7 linked regions of the Homo sapiens genome follow. The protein of the gene in region 2 purifies or fractionates together with the protein of the main gene of each other region. This does not show direct contact. Each region holds a gene or a part of one and is shown on either strand. Other genes may lie near its edges. The genes, in order: PPP3CA, OGDH, EMC2, USP48, SCCPDH, SUCLG2 and SFXN1.

The links.
Region 1: the proteins of OGDH (region 2) and PPP3CA fractionate together in Homo sapiens (co-fractionation; one large-scale study listed by BioGRID). This does not show direct contact.
Region 3: the proteins of OGDH (region 2) and EMC2 fractionate together in Homo sapiens (co-fractionation; one large-scale study listed by BioGRID). This does not show direct contact.
Region 4: the proteins of OGDH (region 2) and USP48 fractionate together in Homo sapiens (co-fractionation; one large-scale study listed by BioGRID). This does not show direct contact.
Region 5: the proteins of OGDH (region 2) and SCCPDH fractionate together in Homo sapiens (co-fractionation; one large-scale study listed by BioGRID). This does not show direct contact.
Region 6: the proteins of OGDH (region 2) and SUCLG2 purify together in Homo sapiens (affinity purification with mass spectrometry; 2 studies listed by BioGRID, with this or other methods). This does not show direct contact.
Region 7: the proteins of OGDH (region 2) and SFXN1 fractionate together in Homo sapiens (co-fractionation; one large-scale study listed by BioGRID). This does not show direct contact.

Annotation. Positions count from the first base shown.
Region 1 is NC_000004.12:101,026,223-101,029,526, forward strand, and holds part of PPP3CA (protein phosphatase 3 catalytic subunit alpha), read right to left. Parts: intron 2,974-3,304; coding exon 2,944-2,973; intron 1-2,943. UniProt on the Homo sapiens protein: Calcium-dependent, calmodulin-stimulated protein phosphatase which plays an essential role in the transduction of intracellular Ca(2+)-mediated signals. Many of the substrates contain a PxIxIT motif and/or a LxVP motif.
Region 2 is NC_000007.14:44,700,627-44,704,126, reverse strand, and holds part of OGDH (2-oxoglutarate dehydrogenase complex component E1 isoform 1 precursor), read right to left. Parts: intron 2,585-3,500; coding exon 2,512-2,584; intron 1-2,511. UniProt on the Homo sapiens protein: 2-oxoglutarate dehydrogenase (E1o) component of the 2-oxoglutarate dehydrogenase complex (OGDHC). Participates in the first step, rate limiting for the overall conversion of 2-oxoglutarate to succinyl-CoA and CO(2) catalyzed by the whole OGDHC.
Region 3 is NC_000008.11:108,450,124-108,453,623, reverse strand, and holds part of EMC2 (ER membrane protein complex subunit 2), read right to left. Parts: intron 3,224-3,500; coding exon of another isoform or gene 3,197-3,223; coding exon 3,132-3,196; intron 563-3,131; coding exon 477-562; intron 1-476. UniProt on the Homo sapiens protein: Part of the endoplasmic reticulum membrane protein complex (EMC) that enables the energy-independent insertion into endoplasmic reticulum membranes of newly synthesized membrane proteins.
Region 4 is NC_000001.11:21,755,650-21,759,149, forward strand, and holds part of USP48 (ubiquitin carboxyl-terminal hydrolase 48), read right to left. Parts: intron 2,135-3,500; coding exon 2,014-2,134; intron 1,056-2,013; coding exon of another isoform or gene 1,054-1,055; coding exon 897-1,053; intron 1-896.
Region 5 is NC_000001.11:246,737,909-246,741,408, forward strand, and holds part of SCCPDH (saccharopine dehydrogenase-like oxidoreductase), read left to right. Parts: intron 1-2,263; coding exon 2,264-2,393; intron 2,394-3,500.
Region 6 is NC_000003.12:67,376,416-67,378,612, forward strand, and holds part of SUCLG2 (succinate--CoA ligase [GDP-forming] subunit beta, mitochondrial isoform 2 precursor), read right to left. Parts: intron 91-2,197; coding exon of another isoform or gene 47-90; exon of another isoform or gene 1-46. UniProt on the Homo sapiens protein: GTP-specific succinyl-CoA synthetase functions in the citric acid cycle (TCA), coupling the hydrolysis of succinyl-CoA to the synthesis of GTP and thus represents the only step of substrate-level phosphorylation in the TCA.
Region 7 is NC_000005.10:175,509,560-175,513,059, reverse strand, and holds part of SFXN1 (sideroflexin-1), read right to left. Parts: intron 2,952-3,500; coding exon 2,853-2,951; intron 1,610-2,852; coding exon 1,534-1,609; intron 950-1,533; coding exon 864-949; intron 1-863. UniProt on the Homo sapiens protein: Amino acid transporter importing serine, an essential substrate of the mitochondrial branch of the one-carbon pathway, into mitochondria.

The sequences.
Region 1 (3,304 bases), on a different chromosome or scaffold from region 2:
CATACTCGGAAGTAACCAAAGGTTTGAAAACAGCCAATGTCTCTTGCCAACCAAAATGTCCTCTTGAAGTTATTAAGATGTAAGCATTTCTCCTGTCTTCATGAAAGTTTAGCTCAAAGAAATCCAAAGTGGACACATAAAGAGGAAAGCTGCTTTCAGGGACAAGCCTCTAGAACCAGCATCAACTGGCCACATCATAAGCATCAAACACCTTAACCTAGACAGGCTGCAGCATGTCCCTCTTTGTATTCCTCCATTGTACTAGGTAATGGCAAATTCAGTGGAATCAGTATGTTTGCTATACCTAAAAACCTAGCAAAGGGCTTAAAGCAGGAGCTAAAAGGAGCTAGAAAAGGAATTAACCGGGGCATTTCCATGCCATCTCAGAATCCCAGAAAGAACTTCTTGACAAGCAACTCAATGATGACATGAAAAAAAAAGAAATTATAAACTCCTGTCTCCACTTAACTTTGGAAGCATGTGGAGTGAGTGACAAGGTAAGAGAAACTAAAAAAAAAAATCAAGATAAGGTCACTAGGTAGAAATGTATCGTCTGCCCTTCAGCAGTGAACAGGTCAAACTGATGTTCATCTGGTATCCATTACTGCCTAAATGAAAGAAAAACTCAGTAGATCAATGTAGATGTAAGTGATGGTTAAATAATAACAAGGAAAAAAATGCCTTTCACAATATTTAGCAAAAATGCATTGAACTGGTTTTGGTCCTATTCAATTAAAACATGGAATTCTCAAAGTGGGAATGATATTTGATTTTTTTAAAAAGTAATCTTTGGTGTGCTACAGCGATAGGTAAGGCATTTGTACAAAAAACTTAATGATTTCTTCAGTGAGTACACCAACTGGTGAGCTGCAAATAAAACACATAAATGGGGAACCAATGACATCAGTTTGCTTTACTCCCTGTGAAGTGCAAGCCAGATATTTCAGGGCCAATCACCAATGCTCAATTGGGCTGCATCACCATGGCTGATTAAGGATAATTTCATGGTACCTTTATCCTCCCAACCTTATTTGGGGGGGAAAAAAAAAAAAAGGAAAGCAGTTTCAAGCTGAAACTTTACCAGCCACTCCTACACAAATGTGCAGTGCCTTTTATTAGTATGGATGAGATTCCTAAAAGATATACACAGTTGTTTCAATACTCATTAAAAGATGAGAAATAGTTTTTCCCCCCTCTGCATTTTAAAGGTTAGCATAATGGTGATTAGTCAACTGTGAGAGGAATAAGATGCGAAAATGGGGAAAGACCAAGGCCCAAAGCAAAGCTTGTTAATTCTTCTCTAATTTAGTAATAAATTGCAAAATAATAGAGCTGTCTAATGAGCACCCACCCTGAAAACTAACTCAATTATTTTGAAATACAAAAGAATAGCATGAAGTGGTACTCTACTGTCTTTTTTAGACTACTGTGAATATAATTTCATCATAATTAACAGGTATAAAAGTTTGTCATCATTATCATTTATGAAATGATTTAATTAATTTAAATGGTAAAAGTGAAATTTCTAGGTTTTAAAAGCCAATAGGGTGGGAGTGTTAAAAATGTAGCTAGAACAATGGATACTTCTGGAATGGGGCTCCATTTCTAATCATTTTTGTCATCCTGGTATGGAAGAATGTGCTCTGCTGTAGTTGCTGGTCAGACAATGGGTATTAGCAATTTACATTGGTAGTATACTTAACACAACACAGAGTCACAGAAACCACAGAAAACAGCCAAACTATCAACAAGAATGCACACTGCAGATTAGAATTTGCCAAGAGGAATAGAGAATTCCCACATAAATAGCAGTTTATTCACTGCTATTTAGGAAGCAGTTGTATTTTCTCTTACAGTGCTATTGTTTCCCCTACCATATCCAAATCATGTACAAATTGGAAGAGTCTAAAGTGGCACTTTTTGTATCACACCAAAGGACCATATGCACATAATTTTGAGAAAAACAAAAAAGTTACCTTGCAAGAACAAAATACAACTGAAGAATTTTGTTTTAAAGGGGAACTTCAAATTATTATTTTTGAAATTTCCAAAGGATATGGTATGTATAATAAATATTAAAAACTATTTTGATATGCAGTTCTCTTATAACTATATATTTAAACAACAGTCAAGTAAAAAGCAAATACTAAAGGTTCGACTCTACTGTCCTTGAGCAGTGCTAGAACACAGCTGGAGATGGACACTTCTTGATGTCCCCTGCAGCTCCTAGTACAGTGCCTGGCACAAAGCAGACACTCAGTACACATTCATCAATTGAGTGCTACTTGATACTCGCTATTCTTGTTATCGGCCACTTCCACAGCCACTAGATGCTTTTGAACTTTTTATAATATTTTGCTGGTGTTAATTCTCATACAAATACCAGTAGGTTACAATTTGATTTAAGATTACCAGAACTGTTCATCTTATATACAGCTGTCTCATGTTGGAATATTTTTTAGAGATACAAATTAATGTTGAACTACAACAAAGCACTATTTAAATGAACATTTTTTTCCTTTGGCTACAAACTTCTGAAGACTAGAATTAAGATGGCTATTTTTATTCTCTTCAGTGCTGCCTGAAAGTGATTTGAGGGAGGGACATGGTTCAGCTCAAAGATTATTGTTTTATAAGCTACTGGTCAAAACAGCTGCCATAACCCCCACCCCACATCATTCAAAATATATAATCCTTTTGTTTTCTGTGATTATAGTATTCATCATATACAAAAGTCAAACATAGCTTTAAGGGAAAGAAACAAACAAACAAACCATAGAAGGACATTTTCCCCTTTAAAGCAAGAACATTTTGGTTAATACTGAGCCACAACTGTTAGCTCAACACCCACACACTCTGTACAAGCTACAGCAAAAAAATGAATACACCCAGCAGAGCCCTTATCTGTTGCAGGTACAACAGAAAGGGGACTGGCCAATTTACCTTCATCAGCCTCAATAGCCTCAACAGTAGCTGAAGAGAAGAAAGGGGGTGCAAAATGAATGAGAAAAATGAGCAGAGGATTTTTTAACTCTAAGAACAAATCAGTGACCATCAAAGGAGCTAAGAGAACTAATGTTCCTGTAAGTGCTAGATTCTGGCACAGACAACAAAACAGAAATGCTAAAAAAAAAAAAAAAAAAAAAAAAAGAAAAAAAATGCCACAGAAATTATAAATTTAATTTATGAGCTGGGTACGCCTATCTGAATTAAATGTTTTGGTTTTTGCCCACTAAATAAATAACAAACAACCCTTTAGGAAAACACTTAGGAAAATTTCTTTTACATGGACTGAATTATAAGA
Region 2 (3,500 bases):
TTCCTCAAAAAACTAAAAATAGAATTACCATATGGTCCAGCAATTCCACTTCTGAGTACATATTCAAAAGAACTGAAAGCAGGGACTCAAAGAAATATTTGTACACCAATGTTCATAGCAGCTCCTCTAATCATAATAGCTGAAACATGGAAGCAACCCAAGTGTCCATCGACAGATGAATGGATGAGCAAAATGTGGCATACACATATAATGGAGTATTATTCAGTCTTTTTTTTTTTTTGAGACGGAGTTTCGCTCTTGTTGTCCAGGCTGGAGTGCAACGGCGTGATCTTGGCTCACCACAACCTCTGCCTCCCATGTTCAAGTGATTCTCCTGCCTCAGCCTCCTGAGTAGCTGGGATTACAGGTATGCGCCACCACCCCCGGCTAGTTTATTTATTTATTTTTTTTGAGACGGAGTCTCTGTCACCCAGGCTGGAATGCAGTGGCGCAATCTTGGCTCACTGCAACCTCTGCCTCCCAGGTTCAAGCAATTCTCCTGCCTCAGCATCCTGAGTAGCTGGGATTACGGGTGCGCGCCACCATGCCCAGCTAATTTTTGTATTTTTCGTAGAGATGGGGTTTCATCATATTGGTCAAGCTGGTCTCAAATTCGTGACCTCAAGTGATCGACCTGCCTCAGCCTCCCAAAGTGCTGAGATTACAGGTGTAAGCCACTGGGCCCAGCCTATTCAGTCTTTTTTGTTTTGTTTTGTTTTGAGATGGAGTCCTACTCTGTTGCCCAGGCTGTAGTGCAGTGGTGCAATCTCAGCTCACTGCAACCTCTGCCTCCCGGGTTCAAGCAATTCTCCTGCCTTAGCCTCCAGAGTAGCAGGGCGTGCACCACCACACCCTGCTAATTTTTGTATTTTTAATAGAGACGGGGTTTCACCCTGTTGGCCAGGCTCGTCTCAAACTTGTGACCTCAAGTGATCCACCTGCCTCGAACTCCCAAAGTGCTGGGATTATAGGCATGAGCCACCATGCCTGGCTATTCAGTCTTAAAAAAAAAGAAATTCTGACACATGCTACACAACATGGATGGACCTCGCAGACATTATACTAAATGAAACAAGCCAGTCGCAAGGGACAAAGACTGTATGATTTCACTTATGAGTTCCATAGAGTAGTCAAATTTATAGAGGCAGTAACACACTGAACTGGATACTTAAAAATGGTCAAAATGGTAAATTTTATGTTGTGTATTTTACCATAATAAAAAAAGACTGGGGGCTGGGCATGGTGGCTCATGCCTGTAATCCCAGCACTTTAGGAGGCCAAGATGGGTGGATCATGAGGTCAGGAGATTGACACCATCCTGGCTAACACGGTGAAACCCCGTCTCTACTAAAAATACAAAAACAAAATTAGCCAGGCGTGGTGGCGGGCGCCTGCAGTCCCAGCTACTTGGGAGGCTGAGGTGGGAGAATGGCGTGAACCCGGGAGGTGGAGCTTGCAGTGAGTCGAGATTGTGCCACCACACTCCAGCCTGAGCGATAGAGCGAGACTCCGTCTCAAAAATAAATAAATAAATAAATAAATAAAATTAAAAATAAAAAAAGATTGGGAAAAAACCCCCAAAAAACAAGGGGCTCACCTTGATTGAAGACTAAAGGGGGTTTGGTGACTGGTGGGATGCAGGCTTCCTGGCCTGGTGACCCCTGGTGGGTGGTAAAGGCTGTGTCAACATCCTGCACTCCACTGTCCCTATAGAAATCTCAATGTTATGGGTCTCCCTTCACACAAGTGCAGCTGGCATGTGACTTGGCAGGACCTGCCGTCCAGTGTTTTTTTCTCTGTCCTGAAGGGCTTGCTTTGGGGCTGGGCCTCTGAGCCAGTGGTGAGCTGCCACTCACCTGCTGAAGGAGGCCGCAGGCAGCGGCACTAACCCTCAATCTTGGACATACTTAATTGCCTCTAGTGGAGTCCTTGGGGGCATTTGCAGGTGAGAGGCAACAGCTCCTGGGCTGCATGTTAAGACATGTCATTTGACCAACGTGAATGTAAGCTGTGACCTCCCTCATCTGGTATCATGGGACTTTTTTTTTTTTTTTTGTGCCGGAGTTTTGCTCTTATTGCCCAGGCTGGAGTGCAATGGCGTGATAGCAGCTCACTGCAACGTCCACCTCCTGGGTTCAAGCAATTCTCCTGCCTCAGCCTCCTGAGTAGCTGGGATTACAGACATGTGGCACTACGCCTGGCTAATTTTGTATTTTTAGTGGAGATGGCGTTTCTCCATGTTGGTCAGGCTAGTCTCGAACTCCCGACCTCAGGTGATCTGCCCTCGAACTCCTGACCTCAGATGATCTGCCTGCCTCGGCCTCCCAAAGTGCTGGGATTACAGGCGTGAGCCACTGTGCCCAGCCATGTATCACGGGTCTTTACAACCAAAAATCTGGCAAGAGCCAGTGAGAATCACAAATGTCAGTCCCATGAGCTGTAAAAGAGCAGCAGCAAAGAAGCCCCAAACATAGCTTCCCCCAAGGAAATGCCCATCTCCCTCACACCCACCTGGAAGCATCTCATCAAAGCTGGATCTGGCCTCGGGGTGGCGCAACAGGGATTTGGGGGTGAAGATAATTAACTGAAATACAGAACAATAGGCTCGTGAAGGATCAGATTCTGAAGATTCCAGAAGGAAGGTCAAAAGCAAGGCTACCCAAGCCTTGACCTTCAGGCCATGAAACACACCTGCCCTCCCACTCAACAGGAGCCTCAGGTCAGAAGAGGCAGAGAAGGAGGGAAAAGGAAAGATGACCAATTTCCCTGCTGTTCACCTCCCCTAGCTGGGTATCCACTCCTGGCAGGGCCCATCCCAGCCTGCTCGGACTCCCAATACTCCCTTCCCTGCTTCTCTGTACCTAGGAAAGAGCTCTGACCCTCTCCTTGGCAGTCTCAGAGCAAATGCACCCAAAGCCCATGTAAGGCTGTGACATGGCCCAGCACCAAGAAGCACCAGGGCTGTCCTGCCCTGTGGGCCCTTGGACTGCTGGGGACACTCCGAGCTGCAAGCCTCCACCCCATACTCCCACCCCCGCGGTATCCCAGGGCAGCAGGGCACTCCCTCGCTGTCCCCCACACTCCTTCCTTTTTTTTGTTTTTTGAGACGGAGTCTCGCTCTGTTGCCCAGGCTGGAGTGCAGTGGTGCGATCTCGGCTCACTGCCAGCTCCGCCTCCCGGGTTCACGCTATTCTCCTATTCTCCTGCCTCAGCCTCCTAAGTAGCTGGGACTGCAAGTGCCCGCTGTCATGCCCGGCTAATTTTTTTGTATTTTTTTTGGTAGAGACGGGGTTTCACTGTGCTAGCCAGGATGGTCTCCATCTCCTGACCTCATGATCCACCTGCCTCGGCCTCACAAAGTGCTGGGATTACAGGCGTGAGCCACCTCGCCCGGCCTCCTTCCTTTTTATGAATCACTTCTCCAACGTATCCCTCCACTCAACTTCTACTCACCCTTCAACACCCAGCTCAGGAGCCGCTCCCTGGGGACCCTGCACTCC
Region 3 (3,500 bases), on a different chromosome or scaffold from region 2:
CTACCGAATATTGTTGAAACATTAGAAAAGAATTATTGGACAGGACAAAAGAATGACTAAGCATTAAAAAAAAAATGATAAACTGAACTTCATCAGAACTAAAAACTTCACAAGGCACCATTTAGAAAATAAAATATTCAAGCAAGAGAATAGGGAGAAATATTCACAGCACATATATCTGACAAAGCTTTTATCCAGAATATATAAAGACCTCCTACAAATCAGCAGTAAAAAAGGTAAAATAACGCAATTTTTTAAATGGGTAAAGACTAAAGAAGATACTTCAAAAAGAAGTTATTTGAATATCTAAGCAAACATGACAAGGTTTTCAACCTCATTAGTCATCAAAAAATGTAAATTAAAGCCATATTGAGACAGTATTCCACACACTCTAGAATGTCTGAATTAAAAAAAAAAAAATTAACACCACCATGATTAACAGGCTCCATGCCTGCCAGCTGATAAGATTTGGTTACCTTTCCATGGCTTCAAATCTCATGCCTGTTAATCGCTTGACTCTGTGACTGCCAGGGAACTGTCTTCTCAGCTCTTGAAGACAAAACTGAAAAAATAAGGGTTGAGTAGTAATTACATTATTTATACTAAATGGGCTACAATGGATGGCCTATATAGTCTTCAATGTGTCTTCTTGAATAATTTCATTAGTGTCATCTAATAACATGAAGTGAAATTAATCAGTAACAAATAATGGATTGAAAGAAGCACTATGACATTACAGTGAAGGCAACAATCAGTTCTCAGAAACTGATCATGCTCTTAACCAGGAAAATGAACAGATTATGAGAACCACTAATAACTCTTTAAGTACTAATATCATATTATTCCTCCTTAAAAACTACTTCTATAATGTGTCAGGCCCCTACTTAAATGACAACAGCGCCTGGCGTTTTCTTCCTAATTACAGCATAAGCATTCTCCTGGTAAGAACTAAGTTTTTTAGTAGTCATCTCAAGTTCCTAGCAAATAACATAAACACTGATTAATTTTGCCCTGTTGAAATTTTATATTAATCAGCCAACCTTTCTTATTTTTTTTTGAGATGGAGTCTTGCTCTGTTACCCAGGTTAGAATGCAGTGGCACGATCCTGGCTCACTGCAAACTCCACCTCCTGGGTTCAAGCGATTCTCCTGCCTCGGCCTCCCAAGTAGCTCGGACTACAGGCGCCTGTCACCACACCCAGCTCATTTTTGTATTTTTAGTAGAGACGGGGTTTCAACATGTTGGCCAGCCTGGTCGCGAACTCCTGACCTCAGGTGATCCGCCTGCCTTGGCCTCCCAAACTGCTGGGATTACAGGCATGAGCCACCGCACCCAGCCAATCAATCATCCTTTCAATCAACATATCCTGATTTGGGGTCAGAAAATACAGACATTAAACGGATGGAATACCAATTTCTTTGAACAAGTATCCATAATTGACTCATCAACTTGACTAAATAAATAATCAAATATTTACTGAGTATCTACATTCTCAGCAACATATGAAGGATTCAAAGTTTTGGAAGTCCTAGAAATGTTAAAGATGATACAAATAGTCCACTGAAGCATATTAATGCATGTGTGACCAAAACAATGCCATTAACTACTGATGAAACTATTAACTGGTAATAAAATAAGTTTTAATATGAATTGGAAATACAGCTTCAAAGTTTGTGGCTGAAATTTGCCACACTAAGAAAAATATTCAAGTTAATCAAAAGTGAAGATATGTTCATTTATTTCTTTGATATCAAGCAAAATCATATTACTTGGTCAGTCAAGCAAGCTAACTGTATAAATAATCTTAACCATTATAAAGTTACTGTTTAATTGTGTATACTGCTTTATTAATCAATAGTGTTATCTAATTTGACTTCCTACTTTATCAAGTGATATTTGGCTATTTCAAAAAAAATAAAAATAAAAACCTCTCTCAAGACATAAAACGGTCACCTCTATGAATATTCAAAAGACTATGTCTCATAGGTTCTGAAGGTAATCCAACAAAGGTTTTGTGGAATGTTTTCATCACTAACAGCTCCACTAGAATTACATGTATAGCCAACCCAACCTTGAAAAGGACAATACTAATTCAGATGTGAATTTTTTTCAGGTATTTCAATTTTTTGTTTTTGCATATTTTCTTTCAGTTTAAATACAGAGGCAGCATGAAGCGGTACTTAAGAATTCAAGATGATAGGAACAACATTAACAGATGCCTCTGCTTTCTGATTTATAAAATAAATATAATAATAACATCAAACACAAATCAAATCAAGAAATAATTATGAAGGCTCAATAAAATCATGATGTAAAGCATTTAGCTTCGTTCCTAGCATGAGTCCAAAAACATAGCTACCATTACAGTGTTATTTTAAAAGCAGTATTAGGTTTGTTTGATTTTTTTCTTTTTTTTTTTTGAGACAGAGTCTCGCTCTGTTGCCCAGGCTGGAGTGCAGTGGCACAATCTCAGCTCACTGCAATCTCTGCCTTCCAGGTTCAAGCGATCCTCCTGCCTCAGCCCCCAGAGTAGCTGGGACTAGAGGCACGCTCCACCACGCCTGGCTGATTTTTTGTATCTTTACTAGAGACGGGGTTTCACCACGTTGGCCAGGCTGGTCTCGAACTCCTGACCTCAGGTGGTCTGCCTGCCTCGGCCTCCCAAAGTGCTGGGATTACAGGTGTGAGCCACCTTGCCTGGCCAAACATTATTAGTATTTTATGTTATGTTCTATACGTCGGGATTTTCTTATGTCAGATATGTTTATAATATTGTGTAACAGTATTGAACATTACATTCTGTGAAAGTCATTCAATAACACAAAATACAAAATTGTTTTAAACTTTCTTATTTTAAACTCTATAAAATAGGATAAGTCACTTACTAAGCAGATAAATTTCAGTAACTAAATCTTTACAGTAAAACTGGGATACTAAACAGCTACTTCTCAGGACTAATAAAAAGATATAAGATACTTTGTCCTAAAATATCTAGTTAGTTCCACTTACTGTTCAGAGTAGCACTCAAAACTAGCTATTGAAAGCATTCCATATAAGCCATACATTAAGTCTTAACTACGGTATACAATTGATGAAGCAAATTAAATATATACTTCATTTAAATACCTACCAATGCCAAGTCATCCCGACCATAGTCTAGTGCTGCAATCATCACCTGTTCATATATGATCCAAACTAGATACACATAAAGGGGGAAAAAAACTGAATTTAATATTAAAACAAACCCAAATGGAAATTAATGAATTCTAGTTTCTGATATTTCTAGAGAACATTACTTATAACTGAAAACTGATTTATTGTATTATCTCTGAAACTAAGAATGCATTCTTACATGTTTCAGCAGTGTAAAATATGTTAATGTAAGGTTAAAATCTCCAATTATTTAATAGTTTTACTGTTCTAAAAGAGTCCATACACAATACATTTTGGCCAGACATTTGGCAGCCCTGTGAGCTTTAAAACAAAATGCCTATTTGAT
Region 4 (3,500 bases), on a different chromosome or scaffold from region 2:
AATTGTGGCTTTCAGCAAGTCAATATACCATCTGTAAAATAAAGATAAAATATTACTCCTTGGGGTGCAAAGGTTTTGCAGGCTGGTAAAAGCTATTCAAGGCCTGGCACCATGGTTCATGCCTGTAATCCAGCACTTTTGGAGACCGAGACAGGAGGACTGCTTAAGGCCAGAAGTTCAAGACCAGCCTGGGCAACAGAGCAAGACACTGTCTCTATAAAAAAAATAAGTTTAGGCCAGGCACAGTGGCTCACACCTGTAATCCCAGCACTCTGGGAAGCCGAGGCGGGTGGATCACCTGAGGTCGGGAGTTCAAGACCAGCCTGACCAACATGGAGAAACCCCGTCTCTACTAAAAATACAAAATTAGCCGGGCGTGGTGGTGCACGCCTGTAATCCCAGCTACTCGGGAGGCTGAGGCAGGAGAATTGCTTGAACCTGAGAGGCGGAGGTTGTGGTGAACCGAGATTGTGCCATTGCACTAGAGCGTGGGCAACAAGTGTGAAACTGTCTTAAAAAAATAATAATAATAATAATAAAATAAGTTTAGGCTAGACACAGTGGCTCACACCTGTAGTCGCAGCACTTTGGAAGGCCGAGGCAGCCACATCACTTGAGGTCAGGAGTTCGAGACTAGCCTGGCCAACATAGTGAAACGCTGTCTCTACTAAAAATACAAAAACTAGCCAGGCGTGGTGGCGGGCGCCTGTAATCCCAGCTTCTCAAGAGGCTGAGGCAGGAGAATCGCTTCAGCCCAGGAGGCAGACGTTGCAGTGAACCGAGATGGCGCCACTTCACTCTGGCTTGGGAAACAGAGGAAGACTCAAAAAAAAAAAAAAAAAAAAGTTTAAAAAAATGTTCAGGAAGAGAGCTCTCCCCCACCCCTTTCCACCCACCTTTTTCTTCTTGGATGCCGTCTCCCAGCATGTAGTCACTACAAGTGCTTGGACATAAGTAGAGTGCCTGCCGAAGCTCCAAGTTGAGAAACCACACTTGAAGAAATGTGTTGACATAACAAGTGGCTCCAAGGTTAGTCAGGCCCACAAATGAGTTCTACAAAAATACAAAATTCATAATTATAAAACCCATTTTCCTTTAAACAACCAATTTCTAAGCATTATTCTTAAATTTTCAGATTAAAAATGTGTAAGACCGTCACAACCAACATGGTATAGCCACCTTAAGTTTCTCTTGGCTGGAGGTGGGGCATAATTTTCATGAAAGCCCCATTTTGGGTTGACCACAGGAGTGAAAAAGACTTCGGACGGCATCACTGCTCATCTCTAGCATATCGTCTTCTCCAGCCACTTAAATCTAAAATTAGAACAGTGGATTCTAGAAAAGATCGGTTTTGAACAAGCGTATATAGGTTTTATGTTTTCTGTATTTCTAAACTGCCAGCATTCAGCAGAATGACAAAGTAAAACTTATGCAGAAAACTTCCTTTATATTCTAGAGATTTTAAAGATTGGCGGTGGTAGAGGGAACTGGCTGCAACTTTTTCCAAAGATAAGGTTGGGAATTCCTGACCTTACAAAGAATTATTATTTTATTAAAATATCTATATATAACAAACTTGGATATTTCGTGAATGCTAAGATTTATGTCTAGAAAATTTAATGTATATTTTTAAAAAGCAAAATTATATATAAAATACAAGCCCTAGAAAGCAAAGTGCTATCATCATGAGTTTGTTCCCTTGAATTACCATCTCCTTTAAAGAGGCGTTAAGATTTCAAAATAAAACATGCAATGTTAAAGCAAACATAGAATCAGCATTCAAACTAAAACTATTATTTAAAGGCTTACTGAATTACGCAGCTGCCTGTTTTAAAGCATATCATTAAGAAGTGTTCCAATTCAAGTGGCTTAGAGTCTTAAGTTCTACTGCTTATCTTAAAGCTGCACAGGTTACCTGAAATCAGTAGAGTTTTCTGATCACAGGCCCAAAACAAAAGCAAAAACAAAAACAAAAAACAGCATATAGCAATCGCTTAAAAAATGATGGTTTACCTTTTTTCTCCTCTCACAGTTGGGATCATCGATGTTATGAAAACTATTTTCATCTATTTCTCCTAACCAAATATGCTCACCAATACCAACCAAGCAATTCGGATTTCCTTTGCAGTTTCGTCTAAGGGGAAAAAAAAAACCTTTAATTTTTAAAAGACCATAGTTTCATGAGAGACAAACAAATTAAAACTAAAATGAGATACCACTTCTCATCTATAAATTAGCAAAACTGAGAAAGTATAAGACACTCAGTTTGTGAGGGTGTGGAGAAGAAAGCATGCATATACTGCTGGTAGAAATGCAGTCACTAACAAAACTACATAGACAACTACCTTTAGACCTAGCAATCTCATTTCTGAGGATTTACTGTTCCTTAGGCTATACCTCCAACAATGCAAAATCTCACTCATAAGGTTATTCATTACAGCACTGTCTGTTAATTGCAAAATATTGGAAGCCACCCAAATGCCCAAAAATAGACAATATGGTACATCTATATGGCAGAGTACTATGCAACTGTAAAACACACACACACACACACACACACACACACACACACACAGCATGAAAAAGATATCTATGAACAGATATAAGGTAATTTATAAATCCAGGACACATTATTAAGTAAAAAAAGCAAAATGCAAAGGAGTATCTCTAGTATACTGTTATGTGTAAGAAATATATAAGGAAAATATACATGTACATATTTCTGCTCATTTTGTACAAAAAGAAATACAGAAAGGAAAAACAAGAGACTAATGAAATTGGTTACCTACAGAGCATGAGTGGGAATAAGGTTAAAAGAAAATACACCTTTTCGGCCGGACACAGTGGCTCACACCTGCAATCCCAGCACTTTGGGAGGCTGAGGCAGGCGGATAACAAGGTCAGGAGTTCGAGACCAGCCTGAAACCCTGTCTCTACTAAAAATACAAAAATTAGCCGGGCGTGGCGGTGCGGGCCTGTAATCCCAGCTACTTGGGAGGTTGTGGCAGAAGAATCCCTTGAACCCAGGACACGGAGGTTGCAGGGAGCCGAGATTACACCACTGCACTCTGGCCTGGGCGACAGAGCAAGACTCTGTCTTGGAAAAAATGAATGAATGAATGAATGAATGAATGAATGAATGAAAAGGAAATGTACCTTTTCATATAATGAACAATTTGGGACCATGTGACTGTTTCTCACACTACTTCACGCATGCACACAAACAAAAATAAATCAACTGGCTAGGCGTGGTGGTTCACGCCTGTAATCCTAGCCCTTTGGGAGGCCAAGGCAGGAGGATCACTTGAGGTTAGGAGTTTTGAGACCAGCCTGGCCAACATGGTGAAACCCTGTCTCTACTAGAAATACAAAAATTAGCCAGGTGTGGTGGTACACGTTTGTAACTCCAGCTACAGGCTGAAGACTGGAGGCTGATGCAGGAGAATTGCTTGAACCCAGGAGGCGGAGGTTGCAGTGAGCCAAGATCGTGCCACTGCACT
Region 5 (3,500 bases), on a different chromosome or scaffold from region 2:
TAAGGAGTTGGGCACGTTGGCTCATACCTGTAATCTCAGCACTCTGGGAAGCCAAAGTGGGTGGATCACTTGAGGCCAGGAGTTTGAGGCCAGCCTGGCCAACATGGCGAAACCCCATCTCTACTAAAAATACAAAAATCAGCCAAGCATGGTGGTGCACGTCTGCAATCCCAGCTACTCAGAAGGCTGAGGCATGAGAATCACTTGAACCCAGGAGTTGGAGGTTGCAGTAAGCCAAGATTGCGCCACTGCACTCCAGCCTGGGCAACAGGGTCGGATCCTGTCTCAAAACAACAACAACAAACCTATTAAAGAACCAGAGGGCTGGGTGCGGTGGCTCACACCTGTAATCCCAGTGCTTTGGGAGGCCGAGGCAGGCGGATCACGAGGTCAAGAGATCGAGACCATCTTGGCCAACATGGTGAAACCCCATCTCTATTAAAAATACAAAAGTTAGCTGGGCGTGGTGGTGCACGCCTGTAGTCCCAGCTACTTGGGAGGCTGAGGCAAGAGAATCGCTTGAACCTGGGAGTCGGAGGTTGCAATGAGCCAAGATCATGCCACTGCACTCCAGCCTGGCGACAGAGTGGGACTCCGTCTCAAAAAAAAAAAACCCAGAGTATTTAAAGAACTTTTACAAGACAATAATAGAAATAAAGACAATTTATTTTAAAAATGGGCAGGGGATGTAATCCTAGCACTTTGGGAGGCCGAGGCACGTGGATCACCTGAGGTCAGGAGTTTGAGACCAGCCTGACCAACATGGAGAAACCCTGTCTCCACTAAAAATAGAAAATTAGCTGGGCGTGGTGGCAGGTGCTGTAAACCCAGCTACTCGGGAAGCTGAGGCAGCAGAATCGCTTGAACCCGCGAGGTGGAGGTTGCAGTGAGCCGAGTCTGCACCATCGCACTCCAGCCCGGGCAACAGTGCGAGACTCCGTCTCAAAACAAAACAAAACCAAAAAGGCAGGGATGAGAAGAGACAAATCTTCTTTGTGGAAGAATTCCAAATGATTTATGTAGCTTCTCCACATTTATGTGCAAGCAGCTGTGTGTGTGACTGAGTGTGTTAATGTGTTTGTATGTGTGTGACTATGTTAGTGTGACTTAATGTGTTTGTGTGTGCATGAGCAAGTGTGTGTGTGTGATTGTGTTCGTGTGTGTTTGTGTATGTGCATGAATGGGTGTGTGTGGTGTGTGTTTGTGTCTGGTATGTGCTTGAACAGGTGTGATTGTGTTTGTGTGTCACCTTCTGGGAGAGGGAGCATAAATTGACAGTGGAGAAACCTGGTGAACACTGCCTCAGCCAGGTGTTCAAGTCAGCATTAACCCTGGTAAATCATGTTGACAGTGCGTAGCCCCGATGTGATATGATATGATAAGAATAGCACTTTACCCCTGTGGTCTCTTTCCAAAACTCATAATAATAATGAGAAAAGCATGAGACAAATTCCAGTAGAGGGGCACTCTACAAAATGCCTGACCAGTACTCCTCAAAACCATCAAGGTCATCAGAGACAAGGAAAGTGTGAGAAACCGTCGCAGCCAAAAGAAGCCGAAGGAGACGTAACAACCGAATGTAATCCTGGATGGGATCCTGGAGCAGAAAAAGGGGTTCAGTTAAAACTAAGGGAATCAGAATGAACTGTGAACTTTAGTGAATTAAATCATATATGTCAGTACTGGTTCATTAATTGTAACCACTGTTCATGTAAAAGATGTTAAAAATAGAGAAAACTGGGTTTCAGAGTACTTGGGAACTCTCTACTATTCAATTTTTCTGTAAATCTTAAACTGTTTTTAAAAAGGAATTTCTAAAAACAGGCAGAAGAGCAGAGCAGACATTATTCCCCTGTGCCCTCTGCCACCATCTACTTTCCTGCTCTCTGTCTGTACGTGTGCGGAGCTTTATGTCTGTGATGATGTTCATCTGGGTAATGCTGTTTGGGGTCATTTTTTTTTTGCTTTCTATTTTTTATATTTTAATATTTTATAATAGGCATTACTTTTATATTTAAAAGTCATTCTAAAAAAATTAAGTGTCATACAGTCAGACGAGCACAACTTCTGTACCACCTGGTGTGCAGTAGGCGCTGTATTTGCCGAATAAGTGGAAAATATTTTGACAGTTAATGTTTTGCTGCAGAGCCACACTGCTTAGCATTTTCAAAGTTTGGTTGCTTTGTTTTTAAAGATAAATTATTTAATACTGGTCTACATCTTTCTGCATAACTAATTAAAATTCTTATCCTGGATTTTTTAGTTTCTGGAACTAATGCAACTGAAGTATCATGAGAAAGCTGCAGACAAAGGGGTTTATATCATTGGAAGCAGCGGCTTTGACTCCATTCCAGCAGATCTGGGAGTAATATATACCAGAAATAAAATGAATGGTAATTATTGATCAATAAGCAATAATGGAATTTAACAGTACCGTGCAAAGGCTTCATGTTTCTAACTGTGGTGAACTAAAATCTAGTTGAAAAAAGAAACATAGCCATAAATGGGTAATATTAAACACATGTTTTGTTTTTAATATAGCTGCACTTTTAATAAAATGCTATTGAGACTATTGTTGAGACATGGATAATACTGTATTTTACAGTGATATATTATTGTCTCAGTATAGTTTGGGCTGTAAAATTTCTGGAAAACAACTTTGGCAACGTTATAAATTCAAACTTGCTTTGTTTAGGAATCAGCACATTTTAAAGCATAATTTGTATATTATAGTTAAAAGGTTTTAAATTTTTAACCGTCAAAGCTAGAAAGTATTGAACACAGAATTGGAGACACTTATTTAAGAATGGAGAAAATAATGTTACGATAAAACATTTGAAGTTACTGATGTTTTGCATATTTAAGAGTGTCTGGTTTAGAAAATTACCTGAGCAGGGTGTGGTGGCTTACACCCATAATCTTAGCTACTTGGGAGGTTGAGGCAGCAGGATCTCTCGAGGCCAAGAGTTCAGGACCAGCCTGGGCAACATAGTAAGACTCGTCCCTAAGAAATAAAAAAAAATTAGCCAGGTGTGGTGGTGCACACCTGTAGTCAGTCCCAGCTCCTCAGGAGGCTGAGGTAGGAGGATCACTTGAACCCAGGAGTTTGAGGCTTTAGTAAGCTATGATTGCACCACTGCACTCTAGCCTGGGTTACAGAGTGAGACCTTGTCTCTTAGAAAAAAGCAAAAAAACAAAAAAACAAAAACAAAAAACAAAACTGAAACAGGTAACTTCAGTACCATATAAAGTGTTCTAGACTTAAAAAATTGGAAAATGTTCCAGCATATATTAAAAAGTTAGCATAACTATGAAACCAAAGTCCAACAAAGATAGCACACACACACACAAACTACAAATCTTGCTTATGAAATTAAAAGTAAAAAGAAAATACTATATAAAATTTTAATCCAGTGCCATTTTAAAAAGTTTTTTAAGAGACAGGATCTTGCTCTGCCGTAGCTCACCGTAACGAATGCCTGGGCTCAGGCAGTGCTCCC
Region 6 (2,197 bases), on a different chromosome or scaffold from region 2:
ATCTTCTGGCCAAGTCACTTCATTCAAAGGTGTGCTTGGGGACTATTTAACATGAGAACTGCTTTTCTGCCATTTTAGAGTGAACAACTCCTGTAGGAGAAATGTAATAGAATTTAAGTGTCTAATGAAATATCTCATCCTACATCATTTCCTGTGCTTTTATCTAGTTGGCAAGACAGAGCCTATTTATAAACAAAGACCTTGAAATATAGGCCTTGGAGAACTTGCCTTACCACAAAGAGTGCAGATAAAAAGAGGCACTGGGTCAGCACATTTCATATAAAGAGGCAAATGCTGGATTAAATAGAAATGGGTGGATTGAAAAGATGATGCAGCACTGATTCCCCTGGGACCCTGGGTCTACCCAAGCAGCAGTGAAGATGGCCGCTTGGCACTGTGTCTTCACCTTAAGGCTCACCTACTCCTGTTTTTACAGAGGAAGCTGGTGAAAGTCCTCTCTGGAAGGTGAAAGCATAAAATGTGGGAAGCTGCTACCTAAAATCTCCATGCTGGCTCTGCCATGTACTTGTTATGTAGTTTTGGGTAAATCGTTTAACTTCTTTGAGCCTTAACTTTTGTTTCCATACAGAGCACTATCATCCTCGTAATCTTCCCAAGAACTAATATCATTAAGTGCTTATGTATGCCAGGCACAGTGCTAAGTAACTTATACACAGCATATGAAATCTTTACAAAAACTATGAGTAGTCCTATTGTTCCTATTTTACAGATAAGGCAACTGAGGCACAGAGAAGTTAAATAACTTTTCCATGGTCACAGAGGCGGTAAGTGTCAGAGATGGGACTTGAACTGTTCTCTGTAATTATAAACGCTGCATGTTCTAAAGATATGCTAGTCTGCTTACCTACTTGAAAAATGAGGACAGTATAGCTGATGGTATAGATTGTGATGAGAAGCAAATGAAATGAGTGTAAAAGCATTTTTGTAAATGGTGCAGTATCTGTGGCAGGCCTGGCTGGCTTTGCACCACAGACTCCTGCTCCTCTTCTGCAGTAGAGTGCTATTGCTGGAAAGCAGCTGCCCAGCCAGAAACTACATTTCCCAGGCCCCCCTGCATCTCGAAGGGGACATGTGACTGAGTTCAGGCCAAAGGAATGTCACATGGCCATGACAATCTCCAAAGGGACTCTTCACACTCGGTTTTCCTTGTCTGCTTTCTGGAGTGTTCCTAGCTGGGGCAGCCCTGGAAGTCACCTTTTTGGTTCTGGTTGTGTTTTGTCTTGCTTTTTGTTTTTGAGATAGGCTCTCGCTGTGTCACCCAAGATGGAGTGCAGTGGTGTGATCTCAGCTCACTGCAGCCTCAGCCTCCGGTGCCCAAGTGATCCTTCTACCTCAGCCTCCCAAGTAGCTGAGACTAAAGGCACACATCACCACGCCCAGCTATTTTTTGTATTTTTTGTAGAGATGGGGTTTTTCCACATTGCCCAGGCTGGTCCTGAACTCCTAAACTCAAGGACTCCATCTGCCGTGGCCTCCCAAAATGCTGGGATTACAGGCATGAGCCCTTGCACCCAGCCAAATCACTTCTTGAAGATGGCAATGACTCCTTCAGCCTGGATACTTTAATAACTCTCTGGAGCCAAGCATCTTACCCACTCACCCTCTTAGACCTTATGGGAATGAGAAAGACCCTTCTATAATGTTAAGACTCTGAAATTTCTGCATTTTTCTGTTGTTACAGGAGCTAGCATTATTTTGACTAACATATGACTTTGTAAATGCTGTGGAAGGCAGCTTCTAAAATGGTTTTCAAAGATCAATCACTCTTGCCTCCTGGTAGTCACATCTTTGTAGAATCCGTCCCCCTTGAGTATGATCTGGACCCACAGCCTTACTTCTAATAGATAAGAACATGGCAAAAGTGATGGAGTGTCACTTCTGAGACTAGGTTACAAAAGCCTGTGGCTTCAGTCTTGCTCCCTTTAACTCTTTTTTCACTCTGATGAAGCAAACTACCCTGCTATGAGCTGCCCTCTGGAGAGACTCACCTGGGCAAGGAACTGAGGGCAAACTCTGGCCAACGGCTGATGAGGAACTGAGGCTCTGGGTCTAATAGCCAAGGAGGAAGTGCATCTGGCCAAGAACCATATAAGGGATCTTGGAAGCAAATTCTTCCCTAGTCAAGCCTTGAGATCACTACAGCTCGGCTGACACTGTGATTGCAGCCTTGTGAGAG
Region 7 (3,500 bases), on a different chromosome or scaffold from region 2:
CAAAGTGCTGAGATTACAGGTGTGAGCCACTGCGCCCAGCAGACACATCTATTTTTAAATACCATGGATAAGTTTAATCCTCCTTTGATAGAAATAAAAGTAAAACAACACTAGTAAACTTTTAAAACAGGGTGTACCTTTTTCAGGAACAATATGATTCAAAGGGTGGACACACTAACTTCAATCTATGCTCATGTGCAAATTTGAGCAACTTTCCAAATGAGAAACAGATATAATACACAGCATTATTAAGTCAACAAACTTAATATGCTGACATGGAAACAGTCACTCGCACATGGCCCTACTGTATATTTATTAACTATATTTACTAACACTAAGTATAACTTCTACCGTTACCCCTGTTTTTCGTTATCCATTCCAAAATGCTTTTGTTGTTCTTTCTTCTCCTTTAATTTTTGCCAGTTCTACAACAATACTTCCAAAGATATAGAATAATGTACTTTAAGCCCCAAAAGAAAATTCTGGAGAAAAAAAAGGAATCTATTTTAGAGAATAAACTTTCTTTGGATAGACTTTGTCCAACCCAAGCACAACTCAATGTAAGCTTGAGATATATCTTTTAAACTTTTTATTATACGGACATAGAAAGACTATTCCAGCATCAGCCCCCTCCCCGCACTCCTCAGTCTGCTTCAATAATCAGTAACTCATCGCTAAGCTTGTTTTCTCAAGACGCCCATCCTCATCCCCAACCCCAGAGTATTTCAAAAGAAATCCAAGATCTCATATAATTTCACCTATACATATTAAAACAAGCATTTGAAAGTTTCAACAAAGCTAATTATTACAAGAGACTCTCCTGTCAAGCACATGTCCCTACTAAGAGTGCATATTCGTCTTACCTTTGCCTCATTAATGGAATATTAATGCAATTAGCAGCAGCTACGGCAGCAAAGGGAACAAAACGTCCTATCAGTGGTGAGACATGCTGCAGAGGAGAAAATTTCAAGAGCTTTATCTTATTTTTCCTGTACTAGTAAATGGAAATAACTTATTTCTTCTTGAAAACTCTGAAAAATGCAGAGTCCCATTTGCATAGAAACTCAGGCCAAGAATGCTTTCAAAACTTTTCCTAGCAGTATTTGTATATTTCCCACATGGGTGTGCTGGGACCATGCAAGCTTCTAAGGCCTTGTAGCTAAGTGTGGTTGCAGGAGTATGGGCTTTGGAGTGGGGAGAGAGAGAGAGAGAGAGAGATGCTCTTGCCTCTCTTCAGAGCTGTGGCCTGAGGCACACTGCCCTCTGCAATGCCTCTGGTGGGCTGTCAGGATGGGTGAACATTTAGCACTTCGTACACAGAGTCAGGCACAGACCACAGTCCTGGTAGGTGTTACTGGTGACAACTCTTCCCAAACTTATTGGAAGATATAACTAAAATATGCAGCTGAAGATAAGCACTATAACAAGAAAGCCATATGACTTGAACTAGTTTAAGAAATAATAGAGGGATTTAGAGCCAGGCAGGTGATAACAAATTAAACAGCTTTATTATGGAAATAAAAATCTGAGTACCTTGGTCAATGCATTGAGTCCTAGAGCTGTTGCTACGGCACCAGTTGTTGCAGAAACGTAAGCTGTTCCCAACTCACTGAAAAGAAAAAAGGATATCGTGTGGACGACGAGGGCATGTCAGGAAACTCTGGTGCAACATTATTTGAAGAAATAAAAGGGAAATATAAAAGAGCATGATTCAGAATGAAGAGTCTACAAAACAACATTCACTATCACTCCACAAGTAGGGGAATCTAGAGAAAAAGCAAGCAGATCCATAAACAATGGGATTCTTCACACGTATCTTGACTATAACTCCAAAAAAGTAGACATGTATTCTTTGAAGTGAGTTGGTTAAAATAAATAAATAAACATACAGACTTTGTATTCGTGAGAAGGAGGGGAGCTGTGTGTAGGAAGCTATGAATACAGGGGAATGCATATTGGGCTAAATGTTTGGGGCATATTTGCTTAAAAATATTTCTCAAAATATTAATATACACACTGAAAGCAAAAATGAAGTGCTGCCATTTAAAAAATGATATCTTAACTGTATAAAAATACTAAGTCTTATCATCCAAAAACTATAAAGCCCAAGCAATTCTCTCTTCTTTTAAAAGAAATTTTAATTGCAATAAACACCACTTGGCTGCAGATTTCAAGATCCTTTGTTCCATATAACAATAGTAGAAGAATATGTGTTGTCAAAAGCAATTTTAAGTGATAAAAAAGAGAAGCACTTTTCTTTCAAGTGTAATACAATTATGCTAACTAACGTTTTTGGTTAACTAATCTTGTGAGCCTATTTTTTTTTTAACAGGTGACAAAAAATTAAAACTCATTGCTTTCTTTTGGACTCCACAGATGAGCTATTTTAAAAACATATCAGATATAAAGTTCACACCGCCATGGTCTCCCCTTGATTTCTGCAGAGACCACACTTTGTCTCCTCTACTCTTAACGTTGGTGTCTGTCAACTCAGGCAGGGTAGATGGCGGAACAGCCTGTCACTTATCAGAGGCCAGGCCGGTGCTGCCTGCCATGTGTTCTACAGGGCCATGAGCTCCAGGGTGAGAAGGAGGTAACATCCTACCAGTACCTCCAAAGGCACGAGTAATGTCTGAGAAGGCAGGCTGGAAGAAGACTGTTTTCTTGATAGGGAGAGAGAAAATGAAACACTTTACTTTAAAAAAGAAAAAAGCTACAAAAAAGGATGCTACATAATATTCTGAACAATATAAAAATATGCACACATAGGCTTTTTTAAACAGGAGAGTATCACCACTTAATAAAATGAAGGTTGAAGAACTGCAGAGAGTGGTCAATTCTCGTAGCCTTACTTGACAGTGAGGGGTGCGTCTCCACTTCTGTTGGTGTAATTGACGACGGCATTGAAGGACTGGTTAATCCACTGCCAGAACAGCACAGCCGGCGTAGTCCTAAAACAGAGGCATCCGTCACATACCCACCATCACTGGGCCCAGCCGCGGCATGGAACAGAAAACGTGAACACCAGTAACCAGAGAGGAGACGTACTGGGGAAGGGAGAAAGCCATAAGGCCACACAGGCTTAGGATCTGTGTGCTGGGCAAGCTTTTATCCTCTGGGATCATCAGTTTCCTCATTCCGTAGATATAGATAACACCAAGCTCAGAGGGTTACTATGAGGATGAAGTAAGATAAAATTTGTAGAGAGCCTGGTACAGAATAGACATTCAATAAATGCCAGATCCCTTCTCTTGGGGAAAAAAGATACAATTTGTAGGCTAAGCGGTCCTGGGCCCTCCTAACAGCACTTGCAATGCTATATGTCTATGTCTACACATACACCTTTAATGTGCCTATATCTACACTTATACCTATACCTATATCTATATGAATGGAGTCAAAGGAGAATTTGCCTGCAGACTCTTTATTTTCCTTCTCCACTTCATTCTCTTTTGGGGCTAAGATTTAGAAAAAAAATTCAACCTCCTTTTGAACAACTA